Homo sapiens: one gene and its partner. The protein of the gene in region 2 interacts with the protein of the main gene of each other region in a biochemical or structural test. Each region holds a gene or a part of one and is shown on either strand. Other genes may lie near its edges.

Region 1 (3,824 bases), on a different chromosome or scaffold from region 2:
CTAGGGCATTCTGTGGAAGTCTTAGTGCTGGTCAGATATGTCACAGGGTGGGCCTGTGTTTCTCGGAAGAGGAATAAAAAGGGATATTCATGAATATTGTTTGGGAAATTTCAGTAGAAGGATTAAGAAAATGAAATAACTGGTATAAATATTGGGGGGAGGAGAAACCCAGCAGTGGCCTGGGGGTCTGAGAGGGCAGGATGGGGGAAATTTTAAATTTTAGCTGTAGGAATAAGATAATGAAAACAATTGATATAAATATTGGGGTAGACCAGTGCTCCTCTGGGAATTTAAGAAGACAGTGTGTGGAAGTTGGCATTAAACATGTTGTTTCAGAGGTTTTAGCTTAAGGAATAAGAGAAGAAAATAATTAGTTAAAAATGTTGGGAGTCCCAGAGGACGAAGTAAGCAAAAGTTGGTATAATACTGTCAGGGAGGTTTTGATTCTAGGAATATGAAATATTCTGGAATAAGAGAAGACTATGAAATAACTAGGGAAGCCCAGCACTGGTCCAGGGGTTTCAGAGGACAGAATGAGGACCAGCCATTATTAACCGTGTTTTCAAGATGTTGGCTATAGGAATACGGCAGGAAAATGAAACGTTGTGCATGGCAGGGCAGCATCACTTTGGGGATCTCAGAGTGGGAGTAGAAAGAGTCAGTATTAATAATGCAGTGGTGGTTTTCGCCAAAGCAGTAAGACAAGAAAGTAGGTGAGATAGTGTTTAGGGGCCCAATACTGGTCTTAGGGTACCAATGGATGGGTTAAAAACTGATAAATTTTAACATTGCTTTCAAAGTCATAGCTATGGCAATTAAAACAAAATAAAATCTCTGATATAAATGTCAGGGGGGGGTTCCAGCCCTGGTCTGAGAGACTGTACCTTGTCATAGTAGTACCGCAAGGCCCGGCTGAGCTTGTCGTAATTCATGTTGGTCTTGTTCTTGCGTAGCCCCCACAGCCGGGCCACCTCCTCTGCATCCACCAGCTTGAATTCACCACCATCCCGTGAAGTCCAGGAGATGATGTGGCCATTGCCTTGCTCTCTCAGCAGCTGCAGCAGAAACTGCCACAGCGTCACAGATGGGTCCATCGCTGGGGGAGTGCTCACGCCATCCCAGGGGTACCTGGAGAGCAAACAGCTGAGTTGAGAGGCTGTGGACATAGGAGGGGCAGAGGTCAGCGGGAGGAGGATTCCTTTTTTTGTCATCTTTTCTCCATCTCTGTCTTCAAACCCTACCATCATTCCCTAAACCTTCCCAGACTAACTTCTAGCTCCCCAGTCTTGCTTGGGATGCTCCCTGTGATGGGATACAACTCATGGGTATCTTAGGATGGTGTGAATGTATTTTGAATGTGAAACAAATGTGAATCTGTGGGGGTCAGAGGGCAGACTGTGGTAGGCCAAATGATGCCAACCCTGCTCCGCATCCTAATCCTCGGAACCTGTATGTTATTTACACTACATAGCAGAAAGGAACTTTGCAGATGAAATTAAGGTTACAAACCCTAAGACAGGGAGATTATTTCTGGATTATTTGATGAAATTCAATCTAATCATATGAGCTCTGAAAAGCAGATGATGGAGAAAGAAAGGTAGCTCAGAGATGTGATGACAGAAGAGGCAGGGGAGATTCAAAATGTGAGAGGGACTCAACCTGCCATTGTTGGCTTTGAAGATGGAGGAAGGAGGCTCAGAATCAAGGACTGTGGGCAGCCTCTTAAAGCTGGGAATGGCTGTCAGCTGACAGACAGTAAGGAAACAGGGACTTCAGTCCTACAATCTCAAGGAATTGGATTCTGCCAACAACTTGAATGAGCAGGAAATGGATTTTCCCCTAGAGCCTCCAGAAGGAACGCAACCCTGCCAATACCTTGATTTCAGCTGAGACCAGTGTGGGACTTCTGACCTACAGAACTGTAAGATAACAAATGTGTTGTTTTAAGCAGCTAAATTTGTGATTATTTGTTACAGCAAGAATAGAAAACTAGTTCCATCCTCCTCATTTGAATATTATCTGTATCTTCTACCATATCAATGTCAAGTTTTTCAGGAGGTTTTTTTTTTGCCAGACCCTTGCAAAGGCTGCTCACTCCACGTGGGGCTTCCTTCTTTCGCCTAGCAGTCTTTCTTATCTTTCAAGTCCCAGCCCAAAGGTCCTTTCCTTTATGAAGCCGTCCTAAAACTGAATGAATGCCTGATCTCTCTGTCCTGTTACTGTCCCTGAATGTTCTCGTTCTTTTTTTTTTTTTCTTTTTTTTTGAGATGGAGTCTCTCTCTGTTGCCCAGGCTGGAGCGCAGTATAGTGGCACAATCTTGACTCACTGCAACCTCTGCCTCCCAGGTTCAAGCGATTCTCATGCCTCAGCCTCCCGCATAGCTGGGATTACAGGTACCCACGACCACGCCCGGCTAATTTTTGTATTTTTAGTAGAGACATGGTTTCACCATGTTGGCCAGACTGGTCTTGAACTCCTGACCTCAAGTGATCCACCCACCTCCCACCTTGGCTTCCCAAAGTGCTAGGATTACAGGTGTGAGATACCGTGCTCGGCCCTGAATATTCTCTTTCTTGATGACAGCAATAATTAACATCTATTGAGAGCTTAATACACATCAGGCACTCTTCTAAGCAGAGAGGCAATATGGCCTGCTGGACAACTGCCCAGGCACTAGGGCCAGATTGCCAGTGTTTGAATCCTGGTTCTGCCACTTATTAGCTGTGTGACCCTGGGCATATTCTTTTTCTTTTTTTAAGAAATGGGGTCTCACTATGTTGCCCAGGCTGTTCTTGAACTCCTGGGCTCAAGCAATCCTCTCTCCCTGGCCTCCTAAAGTGCTAGGATTACAGGCATGAGGCACCACGCTTGGCTGATATTCTTTAACCTCTTTGTACCTCAATTTTCTCATGTGTAAAACAGGGATAATGATATGCCCATTAGTAAAATGGGGATAACAATACCTAGTTCACAGAGATATTGTACAGATTAAATATTATATGCCTGAGGTGTATGATAAGCTCTAAATATTAGTTTCTGATTTGTTCATAGTCCCTTATCTGCCATTCCAACATCCAAAATGCTCTAAGGGCAGAAAGCTTCTTTTAACTCTTTTGGTGGCAAAACCTGATTTGAAATGAAACAAGGCCCTTTCTGGTCTTTATTGAATCTCACTTATTGCGAGTGTTCATACATTTTGCTGCAGAAATATGAACACAGCCGATTACAGAGCTTACTAAGGGGTGTTATGTAACATCGTATATGCATCATGTTACCTTTCTGAAATGTGAAGAAATGGAAATTCTGAAACACATCTGGCCCCAGGGGTTTTGGGTAAGGGCATGTACACCTGTACTGTTATTTTTTTTTTTAATGGGCATTGACTTATTTATCCCTGATCATGCCTCTGAGAAGTAGGTAGTCTTCCTGTCATTAACTTATAAATGAGGCAGCGGAGGCACAAATGTCTACGTACCTTCCACAGGCCACATGTGGCAAAGCCAGCATTTGGAGCCAGGCAGTCAGGTTCCAGTTGACTAAGCATTTCACCATTAGGCTAAACGGCCCCTCACACCGACTATTCCCTCTCAGCATGTCCTTCAAAGAACAGGATCCTCCCTGTCACCCCATTACTGCTTTCTTTCCTGAGAGCAAACTGGAAATAAACATGAGCTTCCTGTTCAATTATACAAGTCACAAAGCCATGAAGTGTCCGATTAGAGAGTCCTGTCACCAGAGACCTCACTGAATTTGTTTTGCAGGCAGGCTTGTTTCAGAAGTCCAAAGAGTTCAGAGTGACTCCTGGTGGCAAAGACAGGCAATT
Region 2 (3,924 bases):
ACAGGCAAGTCGGTCTGTCTGTTTCCGGCGTTATGTGGGTTCCAGCAAGAGCACAAGTCCCAGGGCGCCTGAGGTCCATTCAGAAACCAATGTAAAAACGGTGAGCCAGGGTAAGAAAGAAGAGCACCGTTCCTATCTTCTAAATGCATTCCAGTTTCCACTATTCAAGGTGGCGAGAATGATCCATGGATGTGCCACATGAGCAAAATTTCACCTTCTCGTGCCGCCCAACAACTGACGAATGAAACACACCCCAAGAGAAAATAGGAAACCGAGTCCCCTGCAATAACCTCACACTCAAACCTACACGTCAGTAGGTCATATTCAGAAATACACAGTGAATGTCATCTACCATGAACACAAACACACAGACAGTCTCTCCAGAGGTTCGGAAGACTCACGACCCCAAAACTTGATGTTTCCCATGTGTGGGCTCATCCTGAGATGCAGCCATCACTATCCAGTTGTCCCTGTTGTAGAGACAGAAACTTGGACTCCTCATTACTTTATGTAGGATTGACGGTGTTCGTGTTTGTGTGTGTGTGTGTGTTTGCGTGCGCGCTTGTGGGTGTATTTGTGCGTGTGTGTGTGTGCGTTCACCCCTACGTGTGGGTCGGCACTTCCACTGAGATCACTGGCACACAAGCAGAGCCCTCTTGCTGTGTTTGTTCTTCCCTTTGGATCTCCTGGTCCTCCCTTGCAGAGAAGCGAGGGTGCCAGTGTTCACGGACTCCTGATCTGTCCGGGTCGTCGAAGAGAGGTTTAGCAGGGAGCTTTGCTGTTCAGGATGATGGTTTTTCATCCCACACTTGTATTTCGATTGATGAATCACAAGTACGTTGGGAGGCAGGGTACCTTCGACTTTTCTGACGTTGAACTCAGGCTTCGTTTTGTTTTGCTCTTGGGGGAATTTCCAGTGGTCTAAGGTGCTTTCCTGAGTGGCTCTTTCCACCAAGCGCTCGTCCAACTCGGGTGCCTGGAGGCAGGGGTGGTCTCTCTTGAGCTCTCCTTGCGTTGCTCGCCTGTCTGTGTCTTCAGCGCCGAGGGCTCTTGGTTCCCTGCCTCTTGACACACTCTCACTGTGTCTTTCCCATTCACTCTTCTGGATGTAAAAGAGGACATAGGCCTGTTGACTCAGGACAGAAGTGATGCTACAGGCAGTGACCTTGGCATCATCCATTTTATACCACTGGCCTTCTTGAGCTTTGACATAAGAGAAGTAATGTCCGTCGTGACAACTCCACCCAGCGTGGACCAGCACAGCATAGAGGACATAGACAAGAGGTCCTGTGTTCTGCTGAGACATGTATGGCTGCATGTCAAGGCACTCAGGATATTGCACATTCTTGGCAAGTTTGTTGCCTGTGACATCGGAGAATCTCTTCAAGACAAGGATGAGGACCTTGGCAGAAGTGTGTAAAGTTAACGTCTTGGAGGCCGGCGCCCTCTGGAGACAAAGACCGCAATGATAGGCATTCTCTCCATTGAGTTCTTCGGGCTTCACCAACTGTTCCAAAGCTTGCTTGACACTCTGAGCTGCCTGGATATCCAGGGCGATGTCCAGGTAAGGGTCAAAAGTGTCTGAAATCCCGTGGCAGTGGAGACACTTGATTTGAGATCTCCAGCAGCCTCCAAATATTTGGTGGATGAGGGTGGTGTCCTTAGAGTGATGATCTACCTGCTTGTGGCCGGGAAGGCATGCCTTTTTCATGGCATCCACAGTGAACATGAGAAATTCATGGGCATCTTCCTGCTTGCCTCTATGGAAGCCAGCAGCCAATGCCTGTGAGGGCTGGATGACATGACCAGGACTGTGGAGGGCCCATGTGATGTGAGCTTGCATAGTACAGAGCATGCAGCACTTGGGACGCTGACATGTTTGAGAGTGCTCCCGGGACAGCATGTAGTTGGCAAGGGGCGGTGTGTATGTCAGGCACTGCAGGGAAGCGTTCTCGTAGCAGGTATTTCCCATATTCTGGAGCCCAGCCCCCACCGCAGCAGGTCTCCTGCTACTCAGAGGAAGCTTCTTCCTGGGAGCAAGCTGTCTTGCCACAGGAGCCAAATCATCACAGAGGTCGACACGGGCCTCAGATGAGAGTGGTGACTTCTCAGGGAGAGAAGTCCGCTGGATTTCAGCAAAAGCTGCATCTGGCCGAGAAGATGTGAGTTTTGAAAAGTGGTTGAACTGCCACTCACCTCCCAAGTAGAGTGAGTCGTCCTCCATGTCGCCCGCAACAAGGATCACAAGGTTTTTCTGCTGGGACTGCAGGTTGCAGCAAGACGCTATCTCTTCCAAGAGAGTCTTCAAATGACGAGCTCTCTGGCCGCATCAGCCCTTATATAACTCACCCCCACCAACCGCGAACACCCCACCCACCCATCAGGTGTGCGATAAACCAATCAAATATCAGCACTCAATTAAGGAATGAGTCACAGGGTGTGTCCCCTTGCATCGCTGGGAATTCAACAGACACAGCCCACATCATGACTTCTAGAACACCTGAATCAAATTACTCCTCAGGGTGATAGGCACATATAATATGAGTGTAACCGGGTTGGGACAGTGGCCACACAGTTGCCTTATTTTAGGTAAAAGAATGTCAGGGAAGAAATCTTTACCTATGAAACCGTGTGTGTATCTCTCTGTGTGTGTGTGTGTGTGTGTGTGTTTGTGTGTGTGTGTGTGTGCTTGTGCTGGGATGAACTTCCAAGTATGTACTTTTGGCAGCTACCGTCATCCTCTCATCGACGGAAGGACAAGAAGTCTGAAGTGCGCTTTCTGACCTGAGAATAGTCAATGAAGTATAGTATTTAGCACAGCGTATTTTCTTCCTTAATAATAAAGGAGATATCCGTGGCATCAAACAGACCTTCCAGGGATAACCTTTCCACGTTCAGCCTATTGACTCTCTATCCGAGTGAAATTACTGGCCAGTGGAGAACAAGACAAGTCTTTGCATGAAATGCTCTTGTGGAAGCTAGGCTGCCAAATAATAAAGCATCAAATGGTAGAAACATGCACTGAAGTTTGAAGAGTTACTCAGTGCACAAAGTAGGCTGTGAAAGACTTTGGGGAAATCATGCAATCACCGAGAGACTAATTGATGACATTCCCCAAATTTATGTGTGCCAGAAAAGAGAGATGGTCCTGACATTGTATAGTGAGTGGTTTCGGACGTGCGGCGGCAGTTTAAGAAAACTTGAAACAAAAAACTTGAGAAATCCAAAGGTATCCCAACTATAAGCTTTTGTTTATTAAAGAACTGATGAAAATAAAAACAACGTATCTCACAGCATGGGTGATACTATTTCCATACTTACGTGATAATGGATCAACATTTCATAGAGATGAAATAAAAAGTTCTAATTTTGACAAAAGCAAACAAGGAAAATTATACCGTAGAAAAGCCCGGGTGACGGGAGTGAGGCCCTGTCTGAAGAAGAAAACATCGGAGACGTTTAAAAGCAGTGAGTGAAACAGAGGGTAGCATAACCTTTTTAATACTGGCTCTTGTTTCACTGGGAAATGGCAAAAATAAACCGTGTATCTCCTGGATTCTCGCATCGGTTGTTCATGCTCTGAGATGTTCCCTCCATTTCCAGTTATGCATTGTATGGTGGAATTGCAGTTAGCACCTTTGATGCAAAAATTGTAATGCTGACGAAAGTGGACATGTTCCCTGAACTAAGAGGGACAGCATTTGGGTGTGTCTTCAGGCTCTCTGGCTTACCAGGAATGAAGATCCTGGCTCTAGGGATTTTCCCAAAATGTCTTAGACAGTAAGGAACAGGGCAGAATTGAGGCCCGGCGCCAAGGCCTCTGGGTGTAAAGAAACAGCCCTGGCTTCATGGCCCATGAAATTAGGATGATTTTAAGGATGGTGATGAAATGAGTGGGCTGTGACCTTTGGCCCTGTTTCTTTC

Evidence for each region.
Region 1: the proteins of USP17L2 (region 2) and ELK1 form a complex in vitro, tested with the Homo sapiens proteins (one study listed by BioGRID).

What each region holds. Positions count from the first base shown.
Region 1 is NC_000023.11:47,640,348-47,644,171, forward strand, and holds part of ELK1 (ETS domain-containing protein Elk-1), read right to left. Parts: intron 1,129-3,824; 5' UTR 1,095-1,128; coding exon 885-1,094; intron 1-884. UniProt on the Homo sapiens protein: Transcription factor that binds to purine-rich DNA sequences. Forms a ternary complex with SRF and the ETS and SRF motifs of the serum response element (SRE) on the promoter region of immediate early genes such as FOS and IER2.
Region 2 is NC_000008.11:12,136,537-12,140,460, forward strand, and holds the start of USP17L2 (ubiquitin carboxyl-terminal hydrolase 17), read right to left. Parts: upstream 2,314-3,924; 5' UTR 2,225-2,313; coding exon 632-2,224; 3' UTR 1-631. UniProt on the Homo sapiens protein: Deubiquitinating enzyme that removes conjugated ubiquitin from specific proteins to regulate different cellular processes.